7 linked regions of the Homo sapiens genome follow. The protein of the gene in region 4 purifies or fractionates together with the protein of the main gene of each other region. This does not show direct contact. Each region holds a gene or a part of one and is shown on either strand. Other genes may lie near its edges.

Region 1 (4,498 bases), on a different chromosome or scaffold from region 4:
TTATTCCCCATATTTATGTTTTTATATAATTTCAGTTGATTTTAAGAATCCCTTTTATGTAGAACTTCGCTATGAGAGCATAACTTTATTACATTTCTTTGGAGGGAAAAATAGTTTTAAAGATATTTTTAATATCTTTAATAATATTAACTACTTTATTATTAAAATTGAGGAAATTTTTCCTGACTAAATGAAATCTTTAATATTTAAACATTAAATTAGAAACAGTAAGTTTTCTTTATATCCTATAGCTTCAGTCTAAAACATCCTGGAAGTCAGATATTTTATTTTCATATAATATAAAGAATAGCCTATATTAAGGTATCTGTTTATTGTACACTAACCTGACTAATAATACACTGAAGTCTACCAAATTGTGATTTTTTTTTCAAGAAAAATGTTTAGGTATCTTGGTGACTAGAAAAGATTAATGCAATTTCTAGTTCCCCAAAATGTATGCTGCTATAATCAAAGAATAACTGACATAGTAAGAAAATTTTATTAAACAATTTATCATAACATTAAAACTTCTTTTTTTTTAAACAGAGTCTTACTCTGTCACTTGGGCTTGAGTGCAGTGGTGTGATCTCAGCTCACTGCAACCTCCGCCTCCCAGGTTCAAGTGATTCTCCTGCCTCAGCTTCCCGAATACCTGGGATTACAGGCACCCGCCACTGTGCCCGGCTAATTTTCGTATTTTTAGTAGAGACGGGGTTTCACCATCTTGGCCAGGCTGGTCTCGAATACCTGACCTCGTGATCTACCTGCCTTAGCCTCCCAAAGTGCTGTGATTACAGGCATGAGCCACTGCGCCCAGACATTTTTTTTTTGTATTTTTAGTAGAGATGGGGTTTCACCATGTTGGCCAGACTGGTCTCGAACTCCTGACCTTGTGATTCGCCTGCCTCAGCCTCCCAAAGTGCTAGGACTACAGGCGTGAGCCACCGCACCCAGCCTAAAAAATTTTTTTAAACTTGATATAATCTCTCCCAATTTTAGGAACACAGAATATAAAGTAAAATCTCAGTTTTACAGAATGAATACTTGAAAAATAATTCCAATAAGGTATCTTTAAGTTGTACTTCCCAAGAAGTAATCACATAAAATAATGCAAATCTTGGCTTAAGATTTTAATAGAAAGCAATCCAGCCTCATACTGTTAATGACAGATCAAGTGAATAATTAGCTATGTCAGTATTTTCTCTCATTTCCTTGAAAGGTTGCAGCTTTGAATAAACATTTTTTATATCACACTCCAATAAGAAAGCTTACAAAAACCAAACATTTGTCACTGGATTTAATTTTTTTTTTTTTTTAACTTTTTAAGAGATGAGGTCTGACGCTGTCACTCAGGCTGGAGTGCAGTGGCACGATCATAGCTCACTGCAGCCTCAAACTCCTGGCCTCAAGTGATTCCCCTGACTTTGTCTCCTAAGTAACTAGGACTATAGGCATGCACCATGGACTTCCAGCTAAGAATTTAAGTTAAAAAAAACATACATATATACGTGTATTAATGTAGACAAACAAACCTGAAACTGTCTTTAAAAACTTTGTTTTGCTATTATGTGAAATTTAAAATTGCTGTCTAAAATATTTATTCACAGGTATATAATAGTAAATATAACCTCTATATAGCAGTTATGTATAATAAAAACAGCTTTTATTCTATTCTTACACAAGATATTTTTAGCTAACCACCACGAGTATGAAAAATAAATTCCAACCACAATTTACCTTGTCCTAAGAGCAAGCCAAGCAGCTTCAATGTCTGCATAGAGGTTCTTCTCTGTGGGTTTCCCGGAACTGGCACCATATCCAGAATAATCATATGAGAATATATTACAATTAATCCGTGATCCTAGTCCTATGTAAAAGCTGCTCATTTGACCAAGATCAACAGCATTTCCATGTGAGAAGAGTAAAGTGTATTTCGCATTGGGTGAACAACGTACAAACATACAAGCAATTCTGTTGCCTTTACTGGTTCTAGTCATGAAACACTCAATAGCATCTTTTTCTCTAGAAGAATACTGCCAGTCTGCTCGTTCAGACAGATGTAAAGTCCAACGGCTTCCGCTTTCATCACACATCAGTGTGTAAGTTGGATCAGGTGGCAAAAACGCTAATTTTGAAGCAATCTTCCCTGGACAAGGTGGACAGCAGAAGAGGCAACATAGCTCACTAAATGAAAGATTATTCATGCTCTGAAAAAGAAAAGGAGATAGCAAATATTTTAATAACTGAATGTAGACTCATACAATAAAAAGTTAAAACACAGACATGGGTAAATTTTATTGGTGGTTAATGACTATTACTATTTTAGGTATGATTCCAAACAGATTTTTGGCTTCTTTTTTTTTTTTGAGACGGAGTTTCACTCTTGTTGCCCAGGCTGGAGTGCAATGGCGCAATCTCAGCTCATCATAACCTACGCCTCCCGGGTTCAAGTGGTTCTCCTGCCTCAGCCTCCTAAGTAGCTGGGATTACAGGCATGCGCCACCACACCCGGTTAATTTTGTATTTTTAGTAGAGATGGGGTTTCTCCATGTTGATCAGATTGGTCTCGAACTCCTGACCTCAGGTGATTCACCCACCTCGGCCTCCCAAAGTGCTGGGATTACAAGGAGTAAGCCACCACGCCCGGCCTTTGGCTTCTTTCTAGAAGTACTTTAAATCCTGGGGTGAGGCAAATATTCCTGACCAGCAGACAGACTCAAATCCTATATGACAGGTTTCAAATAGCAGTGATTATTATCTCATTTAACATAAATGTCAAAAATGATAAAGGTAATATTTGCCATTTCTTTACAAATAACCTGAAGGTATGAAATATCTTTAGTGTAGTCTGTAATTTCTATGTAACTCAGCAAAAGTTCTTAGAACCTCATGGAGAAGCTAGGAATTTAGCATAAAGTGAATACATACTAATAGCATTTATGAAGCTATTTGTCAGGCATTGTGCCAAGTGCTCTATGTGTGTTACTTGGTTTAATTCTCAGAACAACTGTGTAAGTTGTTGTGAGAAAGGAAACTTGCACAAGATGAGGCAGTGGTGGAGCCAGGATTTGACTCCAGGCTGTCACTACACTATGTTACTGGGCTACACTGCCTCACAGATTCAGAACACGCTCAGAAGACTATCACTTTGGTCACAGTGCCAGTGGCCCAAATAACCTATAGAACATTAAAGTGTATGTATGTATGCATGCATGTATGTATGTATGTAATTACTGCCCAAACTAAAAAGGCTATAATATAAAGTTTATTGTGGAAAAAAGGTAAAATCTACTAAAGGTAAACTTTTCTAAATGTTTGGAAGAGAAAGAGTACAAGGTTTAAAGTTAGGAAGCTGGGGTAAAATCCTAACTCTACCACTTACCGTTTGCCAGCTGTATGTCCTTGGGCAAACTATCTCTTTGACTCTCATTTTCTTCATAAGTAAACAAGGCCAATACCTACACTGAAGGACCTGGTTGTGAATATCAAATGTTGGTGTAGTGAAGGCCCATCATACAACATACGGTGAGTGATGGCCATATCATTGTCACACTTTAACTTAGGGACAAAAATAAAGTAATACTTGTTAGTTCTATCAGTATTTCCTTCTATCTTGTCCTTTTTCAAATTCCTGTCTCTTTTTAGCAAAATTAGGCCATTGCTTAGTTCCAGAGAAAAGGCATTTAAAACCAACACCTTACAGGTTTGGTGGCATCCAATTTTCTCCAAAAAGAAAAAAAAAAAATCTAAATATAAGAATAGGGGGAAAAAAGTACCCTATTACACCAAAAATGGGAAGAAAACAACTCAACAGAGTGACTAAATGGTTGAGAATATCTGGGGGAAAAAATGCCCTTTTCACTCAATACAGAATCAAATATATCCTATAATGCTCAGTATAAATGTGTTTATAAGAAGCAGCAGAAAAAAGCACAGGAAGAGAGGAACAAGGGTAGGTATAACATAAAAGACTTCAAAAGGTGAGGGAAGGGCAGAAAAACATCTTGGATATTAGGAAATGCTTTAATTGCTTCCTACCTTTATTTCTTTTTAGGCTTCAAAATACAGCCTGAATAAGTTAATGGCTTACTCTGGTTGGAACAAGAAATAGGACAGAAATAACAACTAAGTGTCATCTGCTAACTTTAACTGAGGGCTTCCTGAAGTGTTGTGCTGAGAATGATTCTAAGGCATACACAGGGCTTAGCCAGCAAAAGATGTGATAAATTAGTGATGTTTACTATAGACTCTGGCTACAAATTTACTATCCTGGTCAGGAGGATAAAGTGTCTGTTGAAGAAGATGAAAGGGAAGGAACTCAAAGGATCTGTTCCAGAGGAGGAAATGACCTGCAGAAAGATGATGAGGTACAAGGTATAATATCAGTGCTGTCTGTTTAATATCTGTCTATGGTTATTTGTCAACCCTGATTACCTCATATACCATTGACTGCTGAGCCACAATAGCCTTTTAAAAAGCTTAATAAGTAAATGGTACG
Region 2 (4,498 bases), on a different chromosome or scaffold from region 4:
TTTTAACCATCATGGTCTCTACGCTTGAGTGTGTCTGTGAGAATATGAAGACATACTGTAATTACTGGCTCATTAAGATTAAGCATCATAATCTTCCTAGTTGAAAAGGGTTAGCCAAGTACTGTATAAGGTGTAACTATAAGTATTTAACCTTACAAATTCCTCAAGAAGATAGGCAGAAAATAGGAAAGAAAAGGGCAAAAATAGGCCGGGTGCAGTGGCCCACCTGAGGTACAGAGTTCAAGACCAGCCTGGCCAACATGATGAAACCCTGTCTCTACTAAAAATACAAAAAATTAGCTGGGCGCGGTGGTGGGCGCCTGTAATCCCAGCTACTCAGGAGGCTAAGACAGGAGAATTGCTTGAACCCAGAGGCAGAGGTTACAGTGAACCAAGATCGCACCACTGCAGTCCAGCCTGGGCAACAAGAGCAAAACTCCATCTCAAAAAAAAAAAAGAAACAAAAGAAAAGGACAAAAATACCCAACAGTGGAAAGGAGGCAGCAAAGTTAACTGCACAGATCACATCTCAGTCAGAGAGCAGTATGTGAAGGAGGGAAAAAGCCTCTAATCACTTGACTCAGATATACGTTGGAGATGCTAGAGATCCAACTCCGTGTTCCAAAAACCTGTGTTCCCAGAGACCACTACTGCAGTGTCAGTTCACACAGATCTTATAACACGAGTAAACACTTCCAGATAATGACACTGATGGAAAAATAGCATACAATAGGGAAGCTCTATTTCTAAAAACTTTACTGTTTACCTGGAATCACACCTTTATTCTGGAACAAAAAGAAAACTGCTAAACAGAAGCAGATACTGTTATAACTCTTCCTTAAGATAAGCTTTATAGGCAGTGTTTAACTAGTTTAACTAGTGCTAGACAGCAGGCACTGTTTGTTTTTGCCTGGGAGGAAAAGAAATGCTTTTAGCAGAGATGAAGGTTGAATGATTATCACCATTCAGGATTTACCTTGTTCAGGGATTGTTAGGGAGCGATCAAATCGGAAAGGTAAAGATGAAATGCTTTTCCTGTTTCTTGATTTTTATCTACCAGCAATAATATGAGGCACACTCGTAAAGTAAAGGTTTGCATTATATTTACAATTAAACTCTAGAAAAGCATAATTCTGAGCTAAATATTCTGCCTAAAGAATCTCTTTCACATAATCCTTCCTGGTCACTTGCTCCTTGCACTCACAATTTGTTTCTTAATTCCTATGCTTTTTATCCCTTTCTATACAAGGATTTGTCCAAAAAAAAGTATACTCCCTTACCAGAACGCAACCTCCTGCAGGGGCCACATCTTACTCACCTTGTGTCTCTGTCAGCACTCAGCATTGGGCTTTGACCACAGCTCACCTTCGATTAATAAAAATTATAAATCAAGGCCGGGTGCAGTGGCTTACATCTGTAATCCCAGCACTTTGGGAGGCCAAGGTGGGCAGATTACTTGAGGTCAGGAGTTGGAGACCAGCCTGGCCAACATGGCGAAACCCCGTCTCTATTAAAAATACAAAAATTGGCCAGGCGCGGTGGCTCATGCCTGTAATCCCAGAACTTTGGGAGGCTGAGGTGGAGGTCAGGAGATCGAGACCATCCTGGCTAACACTTGGTGAAACCACATCTCTACTAAAAATACAAAAAATTAGCTGGGTGTGGTGGTGGGCGCCTGTAGTCCCAGCTGAGGCAGAAGAATGGCGTGAACCTGGGAGGTGGAGCTTGCAGTGAGCCGAGACTGTGCCACTGCACTCCAGCCTAGGCCACAGGGCGAGACTCCATCTCAAAAAAATAAAAAATAAAAAAAACAAAAATTAGCCGGGCGTGGCACAAAAATAATCCCATCTACTCGGGAAGCTGAGGCAGGAGAATTGCTTGAACCCAGGGGGCAGAGGTTGCAGTGGGGCAGAGGTCGCATAGAGCTGAGATCGCACCACTGCACTCCAGCCTGGGTGACAGAGCAAGATTCCGTCTCAAAAAAAAAAAATTATAAATCAAAACAGGTTTCTGCTTTAGGTGACAACAGATGAAATCAAGCTCAACCAACTTCTACCTATAACTCATATAATCCTAGATATAGTGGAGCAAAGACGGAAATGGGACCATCAATAGCTCTGCCACTGACTTCCCCTGCAAAATTGAATAAATCAAGAATGAACAAAGCCATAAATATCTAGGATCAGGAACTTTGTACTATGGCCGAGTCCCATCAGTTTTCCCTGACAGCCAGTATTAGATAATCATTTACAGCCATAGCCACCATGCATCTGTATGCAAAACCCTCACATTGTAACATTGGAATTGGCTTTATATGAAAGCTACAATTACAGCCTCTCATCTCCTCTCATTCTATATAAAAGAGTGGGATCTACAAAGCCATACACGGAAACTGGTCATTTCAACCTTGCCTAACAGGGGTTCTTTTCTCATGCTTTTTAAGGAAGGAGCAGGAATAGAAATTCTCGGAGTCCTTATCAGTAAGTAATGATCAGGAATGTTCCATTGATGCTGCTATAAACCTCTAGCATAACAGCAAGGTGACAAAGAATTTTCTAAAATCAGTCCCAAATAGCAGGAAAGAAACACTTAGCTCAGGATGAGTTCAAGAACCAAAAATGGGCTGAGTTGTGCTGATTTAGGTCAGAAACAGGGTCAAAGTTGCCTCTTTCAGAGATGAGAATTAGATATAACAAGTAATTGGCTGGGCACAGTAGCTCATGCCTGTAACCCCAGCACTTTGGGAGGCCGAGGCGGGTGGATCACTTGAGGTCAGGAGCTTGAGACCAGCCTGGTCAATATGGTGAAATCCCATCCCTACTAAAAATACAAAAATTAGCCAGGTGTGGTGGTGGGTGCCTGTAATCCCAGCTACTTGAGAGGCTGAGGCAGGAGAATCGCTTGAACCCGGAAAGCAGAGGTTGCAGTGAGCAGAGACTGTGCCACTGCACTCTAGCCTGGGCGTCAGAGGGAGACTCCATCTCAAAAAAAAAACACGAATTGCCAGCTCTTAGCACTGTCCAGTGGAACCTTCTTTGCGATGGAAATGTTCCACATCTGTGCTGCCCAGTGTAGCAGACATCAGCCACATGTGGCTGCTGAGCACTTGAAATGTGGCTAGCATGACTGAGGAAATGAATTTTAAATTGTGTTTAATTTTAATCTCAATGTAAACTGCCAAATATGGCTAGTGGTGACCAAACCGGAACTGTAGCTCTAGATTCCCTAAATTAGGGACTTTCAATGACAGGCAATTCCCTCTACCCCTTGGGGGACAACTGCCCCCATCTTGAGACATTTCTTATTGTTACAACTGGGTGTAGGGAGTGCGACTAGCATCTACTGAGCAGAGGTCTGGGACACTGCTAAGCATGCTGCCATGCACAGGCCAGCCCCCATAACAGCAAATTATCTGACCCAAAATATCACTAGTGCTGACGCTGAGAAACTGCTTTAAGTTTGCTCAAGGACAGAATTAAAGTAAATGCAAACAAACTGCAGTATACCTTGCCTAAACATAATACCCAGGAAGAATGAGATCTTTTAACCAACAGAAAAAGGTCTGGGCTATTCTACAAGTTTAGAGTAGCAGGTTTTGGCCTGGCACGGTGGCTCACGCTTATAATCCCAGCACTTTGGGAGGCTAAGGCAAGAGGATGGCTTCAGCCCAGGAGGTTGGGACCAGCCTGGGCAATATAGTGAGACCTTGTCTCGAGAACAAAAAAATTGTTTTAATTAGCTCAGTGTGGGGGTGAGTGCCTGTAGTCCCAGCTACTCAGGAGGCTGAGGCGCGAGGATCACTTGAGCCCTGGAGACGGACGTTGCAGTGAGCCGAGATTGTACCACGGCTCTCCAGCCTGGGTGACAGAGAGAGATCCTGTCTCAAAAATAATAATAATATAACAGGTTTTTACTGGAAGGTGTGTTTAATAACTTAAAATCTTCATCATTATAGTGATTACTTCCTGTGGCATTTTCCTTATTGAATATTAACATAAGTACACACTGTGAGACTCTGCTACAGGGCCTTGTTCCTTATGCCTTGGACATACAGTGGGGGGCAGGGGCAAAGCCCCTACTCCTACTCTCCTAAGTTTGAATTTCCTTTGCCTCCTCAATTAACCCATCTGATTTATTGGGACATCACTGATCTCAGATACAAGAAAACTGATACTGTTGTGGAAGAAAAGCAAATCGTGACGAGAAAATGGCTCTGTTATCACAGGTCTGCACGTTTACATAACAGAAAAAGCAAGGGACAGAACTATATTTGGACCAAATCCAAATCACTGAGTGATTCTACTAAATGATGATCGCATACTACATTTTGTTTTTGTTTTTTCACATACATTTTAAAGTGAGAGATATTATTTTAAATTTTAGAGGGTGAGCATCAAATAACATTGTGGTTTCTGTAATCAGTATAAATTATGCAACAATCAGTTTAAATGGGATCATTTACAACTGCTCACATAGCTCTTGAGTTTATATTAACAAT
Region 3 (4,498 bases), about 39 Mb from region 4:
GCAGCTCATGGGGTCCTCACGACAGCCTGAGAGGGTGTGTCTGAGGCTGGGGGAGTTGGGTCACTCCCCACAGACACCCTGAGACCCAGAGGTGGAGCATGGGCAAGTGGCAGCCTCTGGCCCTGGGGGGAGCCCCCCCCCCACCTTGTTACGTGACCTGCCAGCCACTGTACCTCCCTTGGACCCCAGCATAAAGCTTTGTGCAAGCTGTGTTGGATTGGCCTGAACTCTAGACAGCCAGAAAGTGGCAGACGGCTGGGGAAACTGAGGCCGGAGAAGGCGTTAGGATCCCGGGCTTCCTCCCAGCGCCAGGGGCTCTCTGCGCCCTGAGTTTGCAAGCTTGGCTGTGGGAGGGCTCTGCTACCCAGCCTGAGGTGGGGTGGTGCCTTCTCTGCAGCCCAGGCCTCCTGCTTGTGGCACTACCAGGCCCCCTAAGGCTACAGCACCGTCCATGATCCAGGCCCAGGGAGTGGGGCTGTCACATCCAGGGATGACTGCACAGCCCCACCTGCCATGGCAGCTGAGGCGGGCCGGTGTGTGTGTGTGTGTCTGCGTGTGTGTGTATGCATGCGGGTGTGTGTATGTTCGCAAACGGCCTTGGCGGCTCTGCCTGCCAGCCGGGAGCAGGCCCTGCGGGGGCTGCTATTTATAAACAGACGTCTGCGGCTCTCCAGTAATCAGGCAGGCAGACAACACTCCCTCCTTCCACCACACTCTGGAGCAGACAGGGAGGTGGCTGTGGCTGTGTCCGATGTGAGCCTGCCCCACCCCTCTGCCTCAGCAGCCCTGGGAGCCCCCCTTCAGTGGTGGCTCTCCTGTTCCTCCAAGCATCCTTCAGGGCAGTGCTGCATGGAAAGAGGAGTGCCTTTTGGAGTTGGAACGTCCAGGTGTGATTTCACAGGCTTGGAATTTTCAGTCCAAGAGGTGCCCGGGTATGGTCTAGGGTGCCAGCCCTGCCCTTCTGCGATCCTGCTCCCTTGCGGCCCTGCCCACCTGTGGCCCTGCCCTCCTGCAGCCCTGCTCTCCTGCGGCCCTGCTCACCTGCAGCATGTACTCGAACTGATAGATGCAGAGCCCGAGCTCGGCCATGCTGGGTTTGAAGAGCTCCCGCAGCCGGTACTCCTGCATCAGCCGCACGAACACACAGAAGGCCTCCTCCTCAGGCATCTAGGGGGGACGGGCAGGTGGGGGGGCTCAGGGCAGCGCAGCGGGGAGGGGCATCTCGCTGCTCATCAGGGCCCTGGGGTACAGGGGCCCATGTCCATGTCGGTACCTGGCTCCCTAGACTCTCATGACACACTGTTGGTCCCTGTGTCCTCACAAGCTGTTTTACTGATGGAAGACCTGAGGCTGAGGTCACCTGCCAAGGGCCACTCGGCAGGAAACAGGGGAGCTGGACCTGAACCCAGGGCTGGCCACTGCCAGCATCCCCCTGGTTAGGATACCTCCTGTCCCAGCTGCGTCCTCTCTCCCTGTCAGCCTCCCGATTTCTCTGGAGGAGACCCCCAAGCCCCATAAACACCACGCTGGATGGCTTAAGTCCCCAGCCTGAGGTTCCTGTCCAACCCTGAGATGTGGCAGAGAGAGACAGCCTATCCCTCCAAACCCGGTCTCTGTCCTGGATGGTACAGCAGACAGGACCCAACCAGACAGGTGCCACTCACTGGGCCTTGGCCTGGCGATTGGCAGAGGTCACGGGTGTGGATGGAGAAGGAGGATCTACCCCTAGCAAGACGCTGGGTGGAGGACACGCCACTTCTGTCCATCTCTTGGGGGCCGAGCCCAGGGTGGGCTGTTGTCTGGCAGGAGCCCAGCCACCCCCCAGCCACCTACCTGCATGAGGAGCAGGCCCACGATGAAGGCGCTTCCCTGGCAGTAGCCCACCTCCCGGTCTACCAGCGAGTATGCCTAGAAGGGAACAAGTCCTGAGAGCAGGGTCCCGCCGTCCAGCACAGCCGGTGAACTGGGGAACTTCTCCTTCCTTTGGGACCGAGGGAGCGGGGAGCCCTGGGCCTCACCTTCATGACGTTGAAGAGGACCTCCTGGCCCAGGCTGTCCTGGCCCTTGAAGAACTCATGTTCCGGGTAGGTGCGGGCGATGTCCCTGCGGATCAGCTTCTCGCACGGCGAGGACATCTTGAGCAGCTCGGAGTACTGGTTCTTGACGGGCATGTCCGTGGCGCTGCACAGAAGCTGCCACACGATGGCCCGGAAGTGGTGGGGGATGCCCTTGCGGATCAGCTCCTGGCCACGGGAGCGGGAAGCGGGGGCTGGACTCGGTCCCAGCGCAGCCTCCCCGTGGCCACCCAGCCCAGCTCCTCAGGCGTGGCTCATCCAGGCCTCAAGCATGGCACAGAACTCATGGTCCCCAATCCTTTTTTTACCCCCTTTTTTCAGAGACAGGGTCTCCCTCTGTCACCCAGGCTGGAGTGCAGTGGTGCGATCATAGCTCCCTGCAGCCTTGAACTCCTGGGCTCAAGCGATCCTCCTGCCTCAGCTTCCTGAGTAGCTGGGACTACAGTTGTGCACCACCACGCCTGGCTAATTTTTAAACTTTTTTTTTTTTTGAGATGGAGTCTCACTCTGTTGCCCACGCCGGAGTGCAGTGGCGTGATCTTGGCTCACTGCTACCTCTTGCCTCCCAGGTTCAAGTGATTCTCCTGCCTCAGCCTCCCAAGTAGCTGGGATTACAGGTGCACGCCACCACGCCCAGCTAATTTTTGTATTTTTAGTAGAGTCGGAGTTTCGCCATGTTGGCCAGGCTGGTCTTGAACTCCTGACCTTAGGTGATCTGCCTGCCTCGACCTTCCAACGAACTGGGATTACAGGCGTGAGCCACTGCGCCCGGCCTACCTGGCTAATTTTTAAACTTTTTATAGAGTCGGAGTCTCATTACGTTGCCCAGGCTGGCCTCGAACTCCTGGCCTCAAGCGATCCTCCCACCTTGGCCGCCCAAAGTGCTGAGATTCCAGGCGTGAGCCACCACACCCCCATCCTTCATGGGCACTACAGGGCAGCAAGCACATGGGCACTCGAGGGTGCAGGGCCTGTCCAGCACCACCCTGACTCACTCTCTCCTGTCCCTGTGCTCTGGCAGGACACCCTGAAAGTGCCTGCACATCTCCACTGCTGCCGCTGTGCCCAGGCTGGGGCCCCGCAGACCCTGGCGCTGCCTGGTGGCTGAGTGACCGCACCACCTGCCCACGCCGTCGGCCCAGCCCTGCCTGCCTGGCCGCCCCCCACCTTGAGCAGCTTCTCCTTCCTGCGCCGCCACTCCTCCCACTCGTTGGCGATCCGGCCCCACAGGATCCACGTGTCCTCCTCCAGGTGGCTCAGGTTGGAGGAGGCCGAGGAGCTGGACACTAGCGAGGAGCCACTGTTCCGCCGCGAGCCATTCATGGAGCGCATGGACTTGGAGTCGGCCTCCAGGAGCCTGGGCAGGAAGGGCCGACAGAGGGGAACCAGTGACTCCCTGGGGACAGGGATCCTTGGCGAGCCCAGCCCATCCTCCCCCTCCTGGGGGTCTTAGAGGACACCAGGGATTAGGTCCCTCTTGTTCTTTTTTTTTTCTTCTTCTTTGAGATGGAGTCTTGCTCTGTCGCCCAGGCTGGAGTGCAGTGGTGTGATCTCAGCTCACTGCAACCTCTGCCTCCTGGTTCAAGCAATTCTCCTGCTTCAGCCTCCTGAGTAGCTGGGATTACAGGTGCATGCCACCACACCTGGCTAACTTTATATTTGTAGTAAATATGGGGTTTCACCATGTTGGTCGGGCTGGTCTCGAACTCCTGACCTCAGGTGATCCACCTGCCTCAGCCTCCTAAACTGCTGGGATTACAGGCTTGAGCCACTGCCCTCAGCGCCCCCTTTTTTTTGAGACGGAGTTTTGCTCTTGTTGCCCAGACTGGAGTGCAGTGGCGTGATCTTGGCTCACTGCAGCGTCCGCCTCCCGGGTTCAAGTGATTCTCCTGCCTCAGGCTCCCAAGTAGCTGAGATTACAGGCACCCACCACCATGCCCAGCTAATTTTTGTGTTTTTAGTAGAGACAGGATTTCACCATGTTGGCCAGGCTGGTCTCAAACACCTGACCTCAAGTGATCCGTCTGCCTCGGCCTCCCAAAGTGTTCGGTGGTGTGAGCCACCACGTCCAGCCTAAAACCTGCATTTTAAATGGGGGTAGGGTCAGAGGAAGAAAGCAGGAAGGCCCGAATCGACTCTTCCTCCAGTCCTGGCTCCATTAACCGCGGCGGATTCACAGATTCACTTGACCTCTCAAACCTTCAGTCTCATCTGAACAGGGTGGGGACACATATATTCAGCCAGGGTTGGGAGGATGAAAGGAGGTGTCTGTCCCTCATCCAGCATCTGGAGGTGGCTGTCACATTGCACACACTGGGCCTGGCTCTGAATGTGAGGGCACCTGGGAACTCCTGTGGGGGCCCAGACTGCACCCCAAGATTTCACCCCATCCCCCAGCCCCCAACTCACCGGTTCTGCTCTTC
Region 4 (4,498 bases):
CAGACAATCCAGGATAACCACCCCTTCTCAAGATCCTTTACTTAATCTCACCTGCAAAGTCCCTTTTGCCATGGAAGGTCACCTCTTCACAGGTTCAGGGGATTAAGATGTGGACATCACCGGGGGTCATGATTCTGATTGCTACAGGGTCTGAGAAGCTAGAGAGTAAGTGTGTCCAGTGGTGGAGAGAAGCCTTGAATGCCGAGCTAAGGAGCCTGGACTTGGCCTTTCCTTCAAAATAGATGCATGACCTGTCAGCCTCTCACCACCTCAGCTCTGTTACCCTGATCCAAATCGCTATCACCTCCTGCTTGGACCATTACAGTAGCCTCCTCTCTGGGATCTTCACTGCCCCTACACCATACTCTCACCTCCACCAGCAACCAGAGGGATCCTATTAAAATCTTTTGGCCGGGTGCGGTGGCTCACGCCTGTAATCCCAGCACTTTGGGAGGCTGAGGCGGGTGGATCACCAGGTCAGGAGATCAAGACCATCCTGGCTAACAAGGTGAAACCCCTTCTCTACTAAAAATACAAAAATTAGCTGGGCATGGTGGCGGGCGCCTGTAGTCCCAGCTACTCAGGAGGCTGAGGCAGGAGAATGGCGTGAACTCAGGAGGCGGAGCTTGCAGTGAGCCGAGATTGTGCCACTGCACTCCAGCCTGGGCGACAGAGCGAGACTCCATCTCAAAAAAATAAATAAATAAATAGAATCTTTTATTTATTTATTTTTTGAGACGGAGTCTCGCTCTGTCGCCCAGGCTGGAGTGCAGGGGCTCAATCTTGGCTCACTGTCACCTCTGCCTCCCGGGTTCAAAACGATTCTTCTGCCTCAGCCTCCCAAGTAGCTGGGACTACAGGCATGCGCCACCATGCCCGGCTAATTTTTGTATTTTTAGTAGAGACAGGGTTTCACCATATTGGCTAGGCTGGTCTTGAAGTCCTGACCTCAAGTGATCTACCTGCCTCAGCCTCCCAAAGCCCTGGAATTACAGGCGTGAGCCACCGCAAATGGCCCTATATATCTTTGTTTATAGTCTGTCTTCCTCCACTAGAAGAATATCAGCTCCCTGAGGGCAGGATTTGTGTCTGTTTTGGTCACTGCTATATCTCTAGTGCCTAAAAAGGCCTTGCACATAGCAAGTGCATGATGGATATCTGTTGAATGAAGGAAGGAATAAAATGAAGACATCATTGAGCTCCTGGATCCAGCTATGCCTGAAGCCAGTCTTGTGAAATGAGATAAGAAGATACACACCCACAATGTCTCTCCAGCCTACACCTCCATCTCCGAGACCAGGTCATGGCTGGTGGATTTCTTGCTGTCCACACTTTCGTCCTGGCCCTGGGACTCCCTCAGGGCCCAGTGACAGGCAGCTGGCAGTGACCGGCGGAGTTGAGCCCTCCCAAAATACAGGAAGAGCATGGGATTGAGGCAGCTGTGAGCGAGGGCAAGGCCCACGATGAGGGGTTCAGCCCGCAGGGCCCTGGCCAGGAGTGCGGAGTTCGGGGCCGCCACAGTGAGCACCAGCCCCAGCAGGTGGTAGGGTGCCCAGCAGACAAAAAACCCCACCACAATGGCTGTGCCCAGCGGCCGGCAGCGTCGGGCTGCCCAGCACAGGAGGGCACTGTGGCAGCTGGCCACGGCCACCAGGGGCCCCAGGAAGCCAAAAAGAAACCGGATGGCAGTCACCGCATTCTCGGTGCTGGAGGAGCCGCCGTAGTCCACCACACACTGCAGCCGGGCTGGGAAGTGCTCCTGGTGCAGCCGGCGGTAGATGGCGGAGGGCACGGTGAGCAGCAAGGCCAGTGTCCAGGCTGCCCCACAGGCCACCTGCACCCCGCACGCCCGCTGAACCGTAGACCACCAGGCAGGCCCGAGAGCCAGGAAGCAGAGGTCGGCACTGAGAGCTGCCAGGAGCAGGACGCTGGCATACATGGTCAGCAGGATGATGGAGGGCAGCGCCCGACAGCCCACTGCACCATACGGCCAGTGGCCTCCACGGGCAATGGGCACTGCCAGGATGGGCAGAGACAAACAGCACAGCAAATCCGCCACGGCCAGGTGGAGCAACCAGGTGGCACCCACCCTCCGGCGGGCCACCTTCCCAGCCACCCAGGCCACCATGGCATTGCCCGGCACCCCCACCAGGAAGATGGCGGCATACAGTGGGAGCGGGGCCACGCGCAGCGGGTCGATGGCCAGGCAGGCGCCATCCAGGCAGTCCACAGGGCGGTCCGAGAGGTCGCTGTAATCCCCATACTCGTAGCTGACAGAATCGTTCCCCATTCAGGCTCCTGGTGTCTGGGCAGGAGAGAAAGACGATGAAAACTCAGAGGAGGAAACTCCATGGCCCTGGAGATCTAGGGTGTCCATCAGCCCGGCCCACCAGCACCTTGCAAACTGGAATATTGCGTCATAAGGACTCCAGTGCTTTAGAATATTGGAATTCTAGGCCGGGTGTGGTGGCTCACACCTGTAATCTTAACACTTTGGGAGGCCAAGACAGGTGGATCACTTGAGGTCAGGAATTCAAGACAGGCCAACATGGTGAAACACCGTCTCTACTAAAAATACAAAAATTAGCTGGGTGTGGTGGCGGGCACCTGTAATCCCAGCTACTTGGGAGGCTGAGAATTTCTTGAACCCAGAAGGTGGAGGTGGCAGTGAGCTGAGCTCACACCACTGCACTCCAGCCTGGGAGACAGAGTGAGACTCCATCTCAAAAAAAAAAAAAAAAAATTGGAATTCTAGAACTTAGTGTTGTTAGAAGTGGCATCTTGGAATTCTAGAATATTACAATGCCAGAACCCTAGTACATTGGAATATTGGGGCTGGGCACGGTGGTTCAGGCCTGTAATCCCAACGATTTGAGAGGCCAAGGTGGGAAGATCACTTGAGGTCAGGAGTTCTAGACCAGCCTGGGCAACATAGGGAGACCCCATCTCTACGAAAATTTTTTAAAACATAGCCAGGCATGGTCATGCGTGCCTGTGATCCTAGCTGCCGAAAAGGCTGAAGTGGGAGAATCATTTGAGCCCAGGAGATTGAGTGAGCTTGATCATACCCCTGCACTCCAGCCAGGATGACAGAGAGAGACTCTGTCTCAAAAAATAAAAAAAAATAGGAAAAGAAAGAAAGAAATGAGCAAAATCCAAAATCCACAGTATTTTAGAAGATAATAAATACTATGGGAAAAATATCACACAGGGAAGCTGGCTATGTTGGAGTTGTACAGGCATGGTCAGGGAAGGCTTCTTGAGAAGGTGACATTTGCATAAAAATCTGAAGGAACAGTGGGAGAGATGCATCGAGATCTGGGGGAAGAGTGTTTCAGGCATCGAGAACAGCCAGTGCAAAGGCCCTGAGGTGGGAACATGACGGTCATGTCCAAGAACAGCAAGGAGCCCAGTGTGGCTGGAGTGGAATCTGCCAGAGGGAGAGGGTGAGAGGCAATAGCAGAGTCATCAGGGGCCGGGCACAGTGGCTCATGCCAGTAATCACGGGAATTTGGGAGGCCAAGGTGGGTGGATCACCTGAGGTCAGGAGTTTGAGACCAGCCTGGCCAACATGGTGAAACCCCATCTCTCCTAAAAACACAAAAATAACCTGGAGTGATGGTGGACGCCTGTAATCCCAGCTACTCAGGAGGCTGAGGCAGGAGGGATCACTTGAACCAGGGAGGCGGAGGTTGCTGTGAGCTGAGATCATGCCAGTGCACTCCAGCCTGGGCAACAGAGCAAGACTCCATCTCAAAAAAAGAAAAAAACAAAACAAAACAAAACAAATGAAAAACAGTTATCAGGGGCCACGGCATGTAGGGCCACGTGGGCAACGCAAGGACATCATCATTTATTCCAAATGAGACAGGTGCTATAGGAGGGTGCTGAGCAAGGAAGCGACATAATCTATCATAGCAATAATTTATTTTTTTTGAGACAGAGTTTTGCTCTGTTGCCCAGGCTGGAGTGTGGTGGCATGATCTCGGCTCACTGCAACCTCCGCCTCCTGGGTTCAAGCAATTCTCCTGCCTCAGCCTCCCAAGTAGCTGAGATTACAGGTACATGCCACCACACCTGGCTAATTTTTGTATTTTTAGTAGAGATGGGGTTTCACCATGTTAGCCAGGCTGGTGTCGAACTCCTGACCTCAGGTGATCCACCTGCCTCAGCCTCCCAAAGTGCTGGGATTACAGGCGTGAGCCACCATGTCGGGCCACAATAATATTATTACTATATTATTACTATTTTTTGAGACAGGGTCTGGCTCTGTAGCCCAGACTGGACTGCAGCGGCACTTTCCCAGCTCACTGCAGCCTCCATCTCCTGGGCTCAAGCAACCCTCCACCTCACCCTCCCAAGTAGCTAGGACTACAGGTGCACACCATCATGCCTGATTAATTATTATTATTATTATTATTATTATTATTATTTTGGAGGTCATCTGGTTTCACCATGTTGCCCATGCTGGTCTTGAATTCTGGGGCTTAAGCAACCT
Region 5 (4,498 bases), on a different chromosome or scaffold from region 4:
CACACAGCACATACACACATGCAGGGTACACACGAATGCAAAGCACACACAGATGCACGGTACACATGAATGCACACACAGCACAAATGCACAGTACACAGGAATGCACACACAGCACACACAGATGCATGGTACACAGGAATGCACACACACAGATGCACAGTACACACGAATGCACACACAGCACATACACACATGCAGGGTACACATGAATGCACACACACAGATGCACAGTACACACGAATGCACACACAGCACATACACACATGCAGGGTACACATGAATGCACACACACAGATGCACAGTACACACGAATGCACACACAGCACATACACACATGCAGGGTACACATGAATGCACACACAGCACACACAGATGCACAGTACACATGAATGCACACAGTACACACAGATGCACAGTACACACGAATGCACACACAGCAGAGATGCATGGTACACACAAATGCACACACACAGGCACAGTACACATGAATGCACACAGCACACATAGATGCAGGGTACACATGAATGCACGCACACAGATGCACGGTACACACACATGCACACACTCGGATGCACAGTACACATGCATGCACACACACAAATGGACGGTACACACGAACGCACACACAGCACATACCGATGCATGGTACACACGAACGCACACACAGCACACACAGATGCACTGTACACACGAATGCACACAGCACACAGATACACAGTACACATGAATGCACACACCACTCGTGCACACACACACACGGCACACACCACCCACGGACACATACACAGCACGCACAGGTCACACATACAGCCTCTTTCAGGGACGCTGAAGATGCTCAGAAAGAAAAAGCAAACACTGCAAACCAAGAGCCGAGAACAAGCGTGGCATGAGCAGTGGACGGCCCTGGGCCCACCTGCCAGCACTTCCTGGGCTGCCGTTTCGAAACTGCTCGGAAGTGAAGAGCGACAGGAGCGAGGGTTCTGTTCCACATGCTGCCAGCAGGCCTGAGGCTCACAGTGAGAGTGGACGTGTGTCCAGCACACATGACAAAAATCTGACCCAGACACACGCCTGGGACAAAACCCCGCTTCGCTCCAGGAGCCTGGGTTTTCCTCCCTCTGCCTCCGTCCCTGCCCATGGGCCTCAGAAATTGCAGCCTGCGAGTCCTTCTCTGGTGTAGCTGGTGGTGGTGTCCAACATCCACGACGGAGTTTCCAAAACCTCCTGCAGCCCAAGCTGCTCAGGGCCTGGGTGCAGCAGCAGGCGTGGGGCCCAGCCCTGCCAGAGCTCAGCCAAAGGTGTCTCTCTCCACAGAGACACTCACCAGAACAGGGTTCACCTAATTCACCTGCGGGATCTTACCAAACTTAGACAGAATGTCTTGCTGCTCCTCCCGGCTGGAAAACAGGATTTTGGGGTTCAGCCCCCTCATGCTCGAGTTCTCCCATGGTGGGGCTTCCCGGCTCGGCCTGTCCCTGGGCTCCACCTCCACTTCCAGGTTCACTTGAAATAAATCCGGGTATTTTTCTTGAATGTCACACGCGTCCAGGTCATACCTGCGGTTACAAGTAGACACCACTTAGGAAGGCCACCCAAGTAGTCTGTAAGTCCTTGGACATTCACTAAAGAAACGTGCATGGAAACAGGTGGCAGCTGCAGGCAGCGGGGCGAGAACAACCAGGGCAGCCGGCCACCCCCGCCTGCGGAAGCTGGAGCCCTGTGAGCTGACCCAGCAGCTGTCCCAGGAACCCACAGGGCACCAGCACCCCCGGTCACGGCCCCAGAAGAGCATCATTTCACTCGCTCCTCGGACGTCACAGTGGGGATGCCCGCGACTGTGTTCAAGGCAGAGGGGCACCGGGCGGGGCCGCCATGTTTCCTGCAACTCCAGGGGAGGCCACGTGCTCAGAGCAGACGGGACAACATCCCACAGCTGGAGACTCCGGCACCCAGGCAGGCAGCTCTGAGGTGGGACCCCAGGGTTCCAAGGCAGGCGCTGGCCCTCACTACCCAGCACACACAGACTGCAGCCACCCGGCAGCTCAGAGCACGCACTCTGGGATACTAAATGTGTTTTCCATAAAAATGACGACGTCCGCCCTGACAAAAATCCACAACTGTCAACAGATGCCCATAAAACCAAGACCTCTAGAATCCGGCTGCCAGGGAATTGGGAACATGATTCCGGGGGAAACAAAGCTGTGTTCACTGTGGGGCTGGGGAGGCAGCCCAGGCTGAGCTGTGGGGAGCAGGGCAGAGGTCAGCAGGGCCTGCCTTGGGGTGTCGGCCGTGCGGGTGGGGAGCAGGGCAGGGGTCAGCAGGGCCCACCTTGGGGTGTCGGCCATGTGGGTGGGGAGCAGGGGCAGGGGTCAGCAGGGCCCGCCTTGGGGTGTTGGCCGCACGGGGAGGCAGGTGTGACCTGACACTGACCATTTCCCAGCCCCACAGCTCTCTAAGGAATTCCAGGCTATTTCACACATTTCCTATGATCATCTCTGATCCCACTGTCATAAACTGCACTGATAAGCCTGGGCTCTCCAGCGGGCAGCAGGCTCCCCATGCCTGTCTTATTTTACGCCACCTAAAATCTCTACATGTTGAATGTTATACACCTAAGAAAATAAAGAAGAAACACAAAAGAGTGGCGGCCAGTTCCTGGGAAACCCAGGCTGCCAGTGTCTGCAGGGCCAGGAACACCCAGAGCAGAGTGGGATCCGCCGAGGGAGGGCAGGGAGACGGGCCCGGCGGCCTGTGTGGGTCAGAGCCACGGCTGGTTTTAACTGTCACTTCTCTGAGCTCCACACATGCCTGTGATGTGTGAAAGGCCTCTAGTTCACCCCTTCCTGCTCACCCTCTAAAACATCCTCTCCCTGCACGAGGGGAGAGCACCCTGTGCCCGCCCTGAGGGGTGGCCAACCTCACGCAGAGCAGCGCCCCCTCAATGCCCACTCAAGGCTCTGGGCGGAGGTGGCCACGGCCGAAGCCGGGACTGATGTGCACTCCAGCCGGGGCCAACACGAGCTTCCCCCTGCGCCCGAGCCTCTTTGCGTGCCGCTGTCTGTCGTCAGGGGTGGCAGGGACTGCACAGCGGTGGCACAGCTGGCGTGGAGATGTGGAGGAGGCAACGTCTGCAGAGGAGCCTGCAGGCACCAGCAGAGAATCCGACGGCCACCGCAGCGGAGGCTCAGACCGGCCACGACCGAGGGCGGAGAGGCACAGTGGGAGGGGCACGGAGGGAGGGAGTGTGCAGGGAGCCAGGTCGGCCAGACGGGCTTGGGTCCTGGGACAGACCGAACTTGGGCAGCCCCAGAGGGAGTGCCGCTCATGCCCAGCCTCCCTCCCCCAGCTGCCCCTTGAGATGGCCCTGGGCACTGGGCCTGCAGGCTCGGCTCACCCAGCCTGGCGCTGAGGGCACAATGAGGTCTGTGAGCAGGGCTGGCCACTCCCGAGAGCCCTGGACTGCAGAGGACACTGCCCGCAGGCTCCTGCCAGACTAGCTCCAACAGGGCAGAGCGGACTCCTGACAGGCTCAGCTGTTACATCTGTGCCATGGCTGCAACCCTGTGCTCCTCTCGCCCAGGCACGGCGCAGGCTCACCACGCAGGGAACACGCCTCTCGCCCAGGCACGGCGCAGGCTCACCACGCAGGGAACACGCCTCTCGCCCAGGCACGGCGCAGGCTCACCACGCAGGGAACACGCCTCTCGCCCACAGCGCAGCCTTGATCTCGCAGGTTCAAGCAATCCTCCTGCCTCCCAAAGTGTTGGAATTACAGCTGTAAGCCACTGTGCGCAACCAACCTTTCTTCCTTTTAATGTATGCATTTGAAGTTACACATTTCCTCTAAACCCTGCTTCAGATGCACCCCACACATCTGGTAAGTGGTATTTTGATTATCAATGTGTTTAAAATATTTTCTCATTTCAACAGTGATTTCCTTTTTGGCACACAGGTCACTTAACGAGCATACGGTCTCTGGGTGTTTTCCTGTCACTGATTCCCACTTTAATCCACTGTTGAGATGCCTTGAGACTTGCTGTATGACCCAACGTGGAGTCCACTTTAATAAACGCCCACTTGAACAGATGCCATTTCTCCAAGTATTCGCTGAAGTTTGCAAAACTCAGGTCAAGTTGGTTAAACCTTGTAAAAAAAAAAAAACTATATCCTGTTCTTGTCTACCTGTTCCACTGCCTGGGGAGAGAGGCGGCCATCAGCGTGGGCCTGTCAACTTCACCCCTCCTTCTGCCCTTTGTGCTGCCTGTACTGAAGCCATGTCACTGCCCTCGCCCCTGCAACGTCACCCGTCACCTCCTGCCTTGGTCTATCCCACCTGATATGGACAGTGACACCAGCCTTCTTCCTGTTATGGTCTGCATGGTAAGCAATTTCCAATTATTCCACTTCAGCCTTGCTAGGTCTTCGTGTGCAAGGGTTTTGAAGTATGGCTCCTGTAAGCAGTATAGACTTGAGTTTTGTGTGAGCTTGGTTTTTA
Region 6 (4,498 bases), on a different chromosome or scaffold from region 4:
GCTCAGTGGCTCATGCCTGTAATCTTAGCACTTTGGGAGGCTGAGGCGGGTGGATCACCTGAGCTCAGGAGTTTGAGACCAGCCTGGGCAAAATGGCAAAATCTTTTCTCTATTAAAAAAATAAAAATTTAAATAAATAAATAAATAAATAAACAAAGGCAGGAAAGTCAGAAAAGGAAGTCAGTTTTGGGGAAAGGTTGATAATTTGGTTTTCTTTCATTTTTGTTAAGTTTGGTTTTAAATGATATGGGATAGCCAAGTTGAAATTTCTAGCCAATAGTTAAATATGTTTCTGGAGGTGGAAAAACAAGACCTGCCTAGAAATTTGAAAATTAATCTCATGAAGGTGACAGACGAAGCTATAAAGGTAAATGATATCTCTGAAAGGACAGAAGATCACTCAAGTGATACAAACTGAGACTTGGATGTTAAGAAATGGAGAAGTAAGGAAACAGTGTATAGTCAGAGAAGCAAGAGAATAAGATAATAACAAAGGCCAATAATGAAGAAAGTTTCAAAGTGATAAAAAGTGTCAAATGACACATATAGGTTAAAAGAGAAAAATAAATCAAAGACTGAAAAGAAGCTGGTGATACCTAAGAATGTAGTTTAAGTGGAGTGCTTAGGATGATAAAGAAGTTGTGAGTGGAAAAATTCAGTAAGAAAATGGATACAGGAGTATGGTTGGAAAGGACTTGCAGTAAATGGAAGGAAACAGAATATTATTGGAGAATAACCAGGGTTAATCAATGACTGACCTGACCCATATGAGTCCCTCTCCCTACATCATACTCTATTTCGTAATTTTTTTTTTTTAGAGACGGAGTCTTGCACTGTCCCCCAGGCTGGAGTGCAGTGGCGGGATCTTGGCTCACTGCAAGCTCCACCTTCCGGGTTCACGCCATTCTCCTGCTTCAGCCTCCCGAGTAGCTGTGACTACAGGCGCCCGCCACAATGCCCCGCTAATTTTTTTTTTAAATATTTCTCGTAGAGATGGGATTTCACCGTGTTAGCCAGGATGGTCTCAATCGCCTGACCTCATGATCCGCCCGCCTCGGCCTCTCAAAGTGCTGGGATTACAAGCGTGAGCCACTGTGCCCGGCTATTTCATAATGTTATAGCTATAGATATAGGAGGAATTTAATCAACAGCATCCTGAGTATGATTTTTCTGCATAAAAAAGGAAGACAAAACCAGGAGCTTCCTATAACTCTTTGGACTATGGATACTTTGATTTCTCCCTCTTGCAATAGGGTAATTAACCTGTTTAGACAATGGAACTGCTGAGTCAGTGATATTTATTTTATCTTACTACTCAAATCTTTCTATTCTTCCCAAATGTACTGTTGGTATTTGCCTTTCCATAAGCCATGGACGTTCACAGAGGATTCAGTACCTTTCTGTCTAGTAGTCGCTTCTTACGCATGGTCGGGGGTTCCAGATAGATTCGACCCCGCATGGCCAGCTCTATCAGGATGCCCCCTCGCAGGCCTGATGATATGCAGTCATTCCAGAAAGATGTGTACCCCTAGGAAAGGAGAAAAGAGAAGAGAAAGAATGTTTTGAGAGGAATACTGACTTCCAGCAGGCACCCTAAGAACAGGCCGCTTTGTTGTGATTCGTTTCACATCATACTACATGAACTCAAAGTATAGAGTAAGAGGATGTTTCTTTAATCCTCTTAAACACCCCCAAATATGATTTTCTGTCTGACTTCAAGATCTTTAGTGAATTTCCATGGTTTGCTGTTAGTCAATAAATGATGTGCAATTTTTTTTTTTGAGACAGGGTCTCGCTTTTTCCCCCAGGCTGAAATGCAGTGGCATGATCATGGCTCACTGCAGCCTTGACCTCCTGGGCTCAAGCAATCCTTCCACCTCAGCCTCCTGAGTAGCTGGGACTACAGGTATGTGCCACCATGCCTGGCTGTTTTTAAAAAAAATTTTTTTGTAGAGACAAGGTCTTGCTATGTTGCCTACGCTGGTCTCGAACTCCTGGCCTCAAGCTATCCTCCCACCTTGGCCTCCGAAAGTGTTGGGATTACAGACATGAGTGACTGCACCTGGTTTGACATGCAAAATTTTAATTTTTGAGGAGAATTTTGGCTTTTTTGAAGTCTGTTTCCATGACACAAAATTTCAGAGTGGGGTAAAATAAGTCAGAAAAAAGTAAAAAGCATTTGAGCTTTTAATCCTCCTAGATATGTATTAATTTGAAGTTCTTTTTTCTTTTTTTTGAGATGGAGGCTTGCTCTGTCGCCCAGGCTGGAGTGCAGTGACGTGATCTTGGCTCACTGCAACCTCCGCCTCCCAGGTTCAAGCGATTCTCCTGCCTCAGCCTCCTGAGTAGCTGGGATTACAGGTGTGCACTGCCACACCCAGCTAATTTTTGTATTTTTAGTAGAGACGGGATTTCACTATGTTGGTCAAGCTGGTCTCAAACTCCTGACCTCGTCATCCACCAGCCTCAGTCTCCCAAAGTGCTGGGAATACAGGAGTGAGCCACCGTGCCCAGCCAATTTGAAGTTCTTTTGATGGGAGGTATAATAGAAACCCACTGTCATTAAGTGCCTTGGTTATGTTACTTAAACTTTCTGAAGTACATTGTCCTCATCTATAAAATGCAGACACCAATATATATTTTCATAAGATTGTTATGAGGGTTACATGAGATACAATATATAAGAAAGCATTTAGTATAGTGCCTGGCATATAGCAGGCACTTAAAATGTTAGCTCCCCTTCCCTTTGTATAGGGAATATACGTATAAGAGAGCCACTGGTATTGTCTAACAGCAGTAACGTTTAATTACTAATGTCTATTGAATACTTATTATATACTAGATATGTGCTAATACTTATTATGTACTAGATTTGTGCTAAGCTTTTTACATGCATTATCTGATTATATCTTCACAACAACCCTATAAAGGAAGTACTACTACTACCCACACATTAAAGATGAGAAAACTAAGGCTTACAGAGGTTATACAGCATAACAGAGGTCACGAAGCTAAATAGAGAAATTTTTAAGTGGTTGTTTTTTTGGTGGTGTTTTACTGATAGATCATAGTTGTGCATATTTTGGGGTTACTTTTTTTTTTTAAGAGACAGGCGGGGTCTTGCTCCATTATCCAGGCTGAAATGCAGTGGGGCCATCATAGCTCACTGTAGACTTGAACTCCAGGGCTCAAACAATTGTCCTGCCTCAGCCTCCCAAGTAGCTCAGACTACAGGCATGAGACACTGCACCTAGCTATAATAACTATTTAAAAAATTTTTTAATTCAATTTTCCTCTTTATTGGCTTGGAAGTTATGTACTTTTAGAAGTTATCCTTGAAATTTTAACATGCATGATACATTAATTTAAAATTAACATAAAACCTAAATTTTAAATATTAATATTTTAACCACTCTTTTAGTTGTCCAGTATTTTTTTTTAGCCTCATAAATTAGATATCATCATCATCATTATTATTTTATACAGGTAGCACTTGTTTAGATTTACACAGGTGCTTACGAATTTCTTTGCTCACCGTTCCTTCCTGTATCTCAGACTTCCTTTCTGGCACCATTTTTCTTCTTCCTAAAGTAGAATTTCCTTAAGTGAAAGTCTGTTGGAGGCAGTTTCTATTTTGCTTATCTGAAATGTCTTTGTATTTCACCATCATCCTTGAAAGATAGTTTCTCTGGACATAAAATTCCAGGTTGATCATTCCAGGTTATCACATTGAAGATAGTATGCCCTCTTCTTCCAGCTTCTAATATAGCAGTGAGAAATCTATCTTTCTTATTGATTGTGGTTTTTTTGTAGGTGGTGTATCTTTTCTTTGGTCCTTTAAGATCTTCTCTTTTGGTGTTTTGCAGTTTTACTATAACATGACTGTGCATGAATTTATTTATTCTGTTTGGTATATGTTGTGCTTCCCATAACTGTGGTTTCATTTCTTAGCTTCAAAAATTCTCAGCTCTTAGGTCTCTAAGCACTTTGGCTCTCCTTTATTTTCTTTTTTCTTTCCTTCTAGGACTTCAGTCTTTATTTTAACCCCGTCTTTTAACCTTTTATATTTTCCATTTGCTTGTTCTCTGTATTGCTTTCTGGAGAGTTTTTGTTTGTTTGTTTGTTTCTGAGATGGAGTCTCACCTGTCACCCAGGCTGGAGTGCAATGGCACAATCTCGGCTCACTGCAACCTCCGTCTCCCAGGTTCAAGCAATTCTCCTGCCTCAGCCTCCCAAGTAGCTGGGATTACAGGTGCACCTCACCACGCCTGGCTAATTTTTTTGTGGAGATGGGGTTTTATCATGTTGGCCAGGCTGGTCTTGAACTCCTGACCTCAGGTGATCTGCCTGCCTCAGCCTCCCAAAGTGCTGGAATTACAAGCATGAGCCACCAGCCTGGCCTTTGGAGAGTTTTTAAAAAATATCCGGCTTCCTATTTACTAATTCAAACTAACCCTGAGATTTTGATTTCAACAATTTTTCATTAGTAGAAGTTTTA
Region 7 (3,397 bases), on a different chromosome or scaffold from region 4:
GTGGTGGGCATCTATAATCCCAGCTACTCAGGAGGCTGAGACATGAGAATTGCCTGAACCCGGAAGGTGGTGGTTGTAGTAAGCCGAGATCACGCCACTGCACTCCAGCCTGGGCAACAGAGCGAGACTCCATCTCAAAAAAAAAGAAAAAAAGAAACAGGGCTACCCCGTATGTTTACTGCAGTAAACCCTAACCCTAGTAGGTTTTACCAAAACCCTAATCATGGTGGTTCATTGCATGGTATCCGCTTACCAGGGGCTATGTCCTGTAGAAAGCACTTTATATTTTAACTTATTTGAAACTCGAAGTAATGCTATGAGGTAGGTAATATTTAGTCTCCTCTTTTTACTGATAAGGAGCCCAAAGCACCAAGGGATGAAGTCACTTGCCCATAGGCTCATATCTGGTAGGTACTGGGGCAGGTAGGTCAACGCAATCCGCCTCCATCCAGCGTGAGAGGCCACACTCTGAGCCACCGAGCTGGGCACGTGGCAACCACAATGCTCCAAGTCCCTGCTGACAAGCTCTTCGTTCTTAATTTTTGAACAACCCTTGTGGAATCGGATAATTGCTGAGTTTACAGGGAGACGCAGAGACCTCTTCCAAGACCCCTTCTCATGAAACAAACACTGCTCAAGCCATAAATCAAATTTTCTATGACAGGAGAATCCACCATTTAAAGGAACTACTTTTCCTTTTATTGGAATAGGTTGGTGCAAAAGTAATTGTGGTTCTTTTTTTCCCCCATTAAAATGGCATCCCAGCACTTTGGGAGGCTGAGGCAGGCGGATCACCTGAGGTTGGAAGTTCGAGATCAGCCTGGGCAATATGGTGAAACCCCGTCTCTACCAAAAATATACAAAAATTAGCCGGACAATGCTGGCGTATATCTGTAGTCCCAGCTACTTGGGAGGCTGAGATGGGAGAATACTTGAACCCGGGAGGCAGAGGTTGCAGTGAGCTGACATTGTGCCACTGCACTCCAGCCTGGGCAACAGAGTGAGACCCTGTCCAAAAAAAAAAAAAAAAAAAGGCAAAAACCGCAATTGCTTTTGCACCGACCTGATATCTTCCACAGGAAAAATTTCGTATTTCATAAGCATTGTGGTCTCTGCACAAAAAGTGAAGACCAGGCTCTCAGATGTTCTGTGGGTCAATGATGCTTGACGACACCCCAAAACATCTCCGCAGGTGTGAATTCCAGCTGATCTTGCAAAATAAACTAGTCATGCCCCCTCCTCAGTATTTCCCAGGGTTCTGATTTACACTGAACTGGGCAATGTCCAACACTGTTGAACTTTAGCCAGACTCTGAATAGAGAAGGAAGCATGCACTTTGGTGACGGGCACTGGTCCAGGATTAAGGGAAAAGGCAGTGACTGAGCATAGATAACCCTGGTGGCCTCAGCGCTAAAAGCTGAGAATTTACCGCTCCATCCACAGACGTCCGCCCCACACAGCCTCCGGCATCCTTTGTGGCTTTGGGTGGCGGGGGCAGGGGAGACATGTTACATCTCCTACATCCCAACCTCTTTCAAAGTCTGGATGAATTACCATCTCTCCGCAAAACCTTTGCTGGCCACATCAGTGTATAGTGGCTGGCCTGCCTTCCTCTGAACACTGGTGGTTAAAAACCATCTGATTTGATGAGGCAGCTGGAGATTCAAATAATGCTCCATTGTCTCCAAAAATACACTCTTCAGTGCCTATGCCCCAATTTTTGGATCAGAAAAAAAAAGAAGGAAAGGCTGGGCACAGTGGTACATGCCTGTAATCCCAGCACTTTGGGAGGCCGAGGCGGGTAGATCACCTGAGGTCAGGAGCTCGACACTGGCCTGGGCAACATGGTGAAACCCCCATCTCTACTAAAAATACAAAAATTAGCCAGGTATGGTAGCACATGCCTATAGTCCCAGATATTTGGGAGGCTAAGACAGGAGAATCACTTGAACCTGGGAGGTGGAGGAGGCAGTGAGCCAAGATCGTGCCACTGTACTCCAGCCTGGGCAAGACAGAGTGAGACTCCGTCTCAAAAAAAAAAAAAAAAAAGAAGAAGGAAAAAAAACCCACAACATCGCCCACCCCATCACTAGTCCCTAGCATCTCCTATTAGACCTTATCACACACTGTCTGAGGCTATTATCTTTGAGCACTGTCTTATCTCCTCTCGACTATAAGGTCCTTTTGCAGTTTGCAATCTGTGGCTGACTCTCTAGGGGAGGGGAGCGGAGATTTGAAGTGGCCACAGAGGAAGGCCGAGGGCATCCAGGGAGAAGCAGCTCACCGAGGCCGGAGATTCGCAGCAGATGCTGAGCCCCCTGGCGCACGGAGGGTGAGAGGGTTAGATCCACAAAAGCCTTCACCTGGGCACGGTCCACCAGGCTGAGCCATGCCCCATACTGCGGCTGTACAGGGTCCGAGGGCAGGGAGTCTACAGAGAAGATAAGGAAAGGAAGGTAGCCAGTGTTGTCCAAACTCAATGTCTCCTAGAGTCCAAATCACAGACGGGCCTGGGCAGGGCTATGGCTACTTGGAGGGGTCATGGGAAAGGATAAAAGGGGCAGAGGGGCTGGTGTCGGGGCTCATGCCTGTAATCCCTGCCCTTTGGGAAGCCAAGGTGGGAGGGCTGCTTGAGCCAGGAGTTCCAGACAGCCTGGGAAACATAAAGAGACCTCATCTCTACAAATGAGCCAGGCCTGGTGGCACACACCTGTAGTCCCAGCTACTCAGGAGGCCAAGGCAGGAGGATTACTTGAGCCCAAGAGGTTGAGGCTGCAGTGAACTATGATGGCACCACTGCTCTCCAGCCTGGGTGACAGAGCAAGACCTTGTCTCAAAAAAAAGCGGGGGAGGGGTTCTGGCCGTGGTGGCTCACACCTACAATTCCAGCACTTTGGGAGGCCGAGATGGGCGGAGCACTTGAGGTCAGGAGTTCGAGACTAGCTTGGCCAACATGGTGAAACCCCTTCTCTACTAAAAATACAAAAACTAGCCAGGCATGATGGTGTGTGCCTGTAATCCCAGCTCAGGAGGCTAAGGCAGGAGAATTACTTGAACCTGGGAGGTGGAGGTTGCAGTGAGCCAAGATCGTCCCACTGCACTCCAGCCTGGGCAACAGAACGAAGCTCCATCTCAAAAAAAAAAAAAAGGTAGGGGGAGAGAAGGATGGGAGTGAGTGAGTGAGTGGGAGGGCAGCTCACCGAGGTCTCCCAGGGTGACGTGGCCCAGCACATACAGCCCCCCCTTCTTAAGCTGGTTGGCCAACCGCAGCAGAGGCAGGGCGCCCCGGGGGTTCCCCACCAGGAGCAGCAGCTGGGGCCGCCAGAACTTCACGTGATCCTTCCGGACGTCCAGCCGAAGCAGATACTTACGCACCTGGGTATAGGGGTGAGGCAGT

The links.
Region 1: the proteins of C5AR2 (region 4) and ABHD17B purify together in Homo sapiens (affinity purification with mass spectrometry; 2 studies listed by BioGRID and IntAct, with this or other methods). This does not show direct contact.
Region 2: the proteins of C5AR2 (region 4) and PDXDC1 purify together in Homo sapiens (affinity purification with mass spectrometry; 2 studies listed by BioGRID and IntAct, with this or other methods). This does not show direct contact.
Region 3: the proteins of C5AR2 (region 4) and EVI5L purify together in Homo sapiens (affinity purification with mass spectrometry; 2 studies listed by BioGRID and IntAct, with this or other methods). This does not show direct contact.
Region 5: the proteins of C5AR2 (region 4) and GAK purify together in Homo sapiens (affinity purification with mass spectrometry; 2 studies listed by BioGRID and IntAct, with this or other methods). This does not show direct contact.
Region 6: the proteins of C5AR2 (region 4) and GOLPH3L purify together in Homo sapiens (affinity purification with mass spectrometry; 2 studies listed by BioGRID and IntAct, with this or other methods). This does not show direct contact.
Region 7: the proteins of C5AR2 (region 4) and SLC12A9 purify together in Homo sapiens (affinity purification with mass spectrometry; 2 studies listed by BioGRID and IntAct, with this or other methods). This does not show direct contact.

The regions. Positions count from the first base shown.
Region 1 is NC_000009.12:71,872,877-71,877,374, forward strand, and holds part of ABHD17B (alpha/beta hydrolase domain-containing protein 17B), read right to left. Parts: intron 2,208-4,498; 5' UTR 2,205-2,207; coding exon 1,738-2,204; intron 1-1,737. UniProt on the Homo sapiens protein: Hydrolyzes fatty acids from S-acylated cysteine residues in proteins. Has depalmitoylating activity towards DLG4/PSD95. Has depalmitoylating activity towards GAP43. Has depalmitoylating activity towards MAP6. Has depalmitoylating activity towards NRAS.
Region 2 is NC_000016.10:14,977,794-14,982,291, reverse strand, and holds part of PDXDC1 (pyridoxal-dependent decarboxylase domain-containing protein 1), read right to left. Parts: intron 1,410-4,498; exon of another isoform or gene 1,319-1,409; intron 1-1,318.
Region 3 is NC_000019.10:7,846,666-7,851,163, reverse strand, and holds part of EVI5L (EVI5-like protein), read right to left. Parts: coding exon 4,485-4,498; intron 3,433-4,484; coding exon 3,243-3,432; intron 2,244-3,242; coding exon 2,019-2,243; intron 1,909-2,018; coding exon 1,834-1,908; intron 1,168-1,833; coding exon 1,042-1,167; intron 1-1,041. UniProt on the Homo sapiens protein: Functions as a GTPase-activating protein (GAP) with a broad specificity.
Region 4 is NC_000019.10:47,338,592-47,343,089, reverse strand, and holds part of C5AR2 (C5a anaphylatoxin chemotactic receptor 2), read right to left. Parts: intron 2,604-4,498; exon of another isoform or gene 2,478-2,603; intron 2,306-2,477; 5' UTR 2,291-2,305; coding exon 1,277-2,290; 3' UTR 1-1,276.
Region 5 is NC_000004.12:869,346-873,843, forward strand, and holds part of GAK (cyclin-G-associated kinase), read right to left. Parts: exon of another isoform or gene 3,956-4,498; intron 3,881-3,955; exon of another isoform or gene 3,723-3,880; intron 1,560-3,722; coding exon 1,366-1,559; intron 1-1,365. UniProt on the Homo sapiens protein: Associates with cyclin G and CDK5. Seems to act as an auxilin homolog that is involved in the uncoating of clathrin-coated vesicles by Hsc70 in non-neuronal cells. Expression oscillates slightly during the cell cycle, peaking at G1.
Region 6 is NC_000001.11:150,662,236-150,666,733, forward strand, and holds part of GOLPH3L (Golgi phosphoprotein 3-like), read right to left. Parts: intron 1,529-4,498; coding exon 1,397-1,528; intron 1-1,396. UniProt on the Homo sapiens protein: Phosphatidylinositol-4-phosphate-binding protein that may antagonize the action of GOLPH3 which is required for the process of vesicle budding at the Golgi and anterograde transport to the plasma membrane.
Region 7 is NC_000007.14:100,861,715-100,865,111, reverse strand, and holds part of SLC12A9 (solute carrier family 12 member 9), read right to left. Parts: intron 3,376-3,397; coding exon 3,201-3,375; intron 2,432-3,200; coding exon 2,285-2,431; intron 1-2,284. UniProt on the Homo sapiens protein: May be an inhibitor of SLC12A1. Seems to correspond to a subunit of a multimeric transport system and thus, additional subunits may be required for its function. May play a role in lysosomal ion flux and osmoregulation.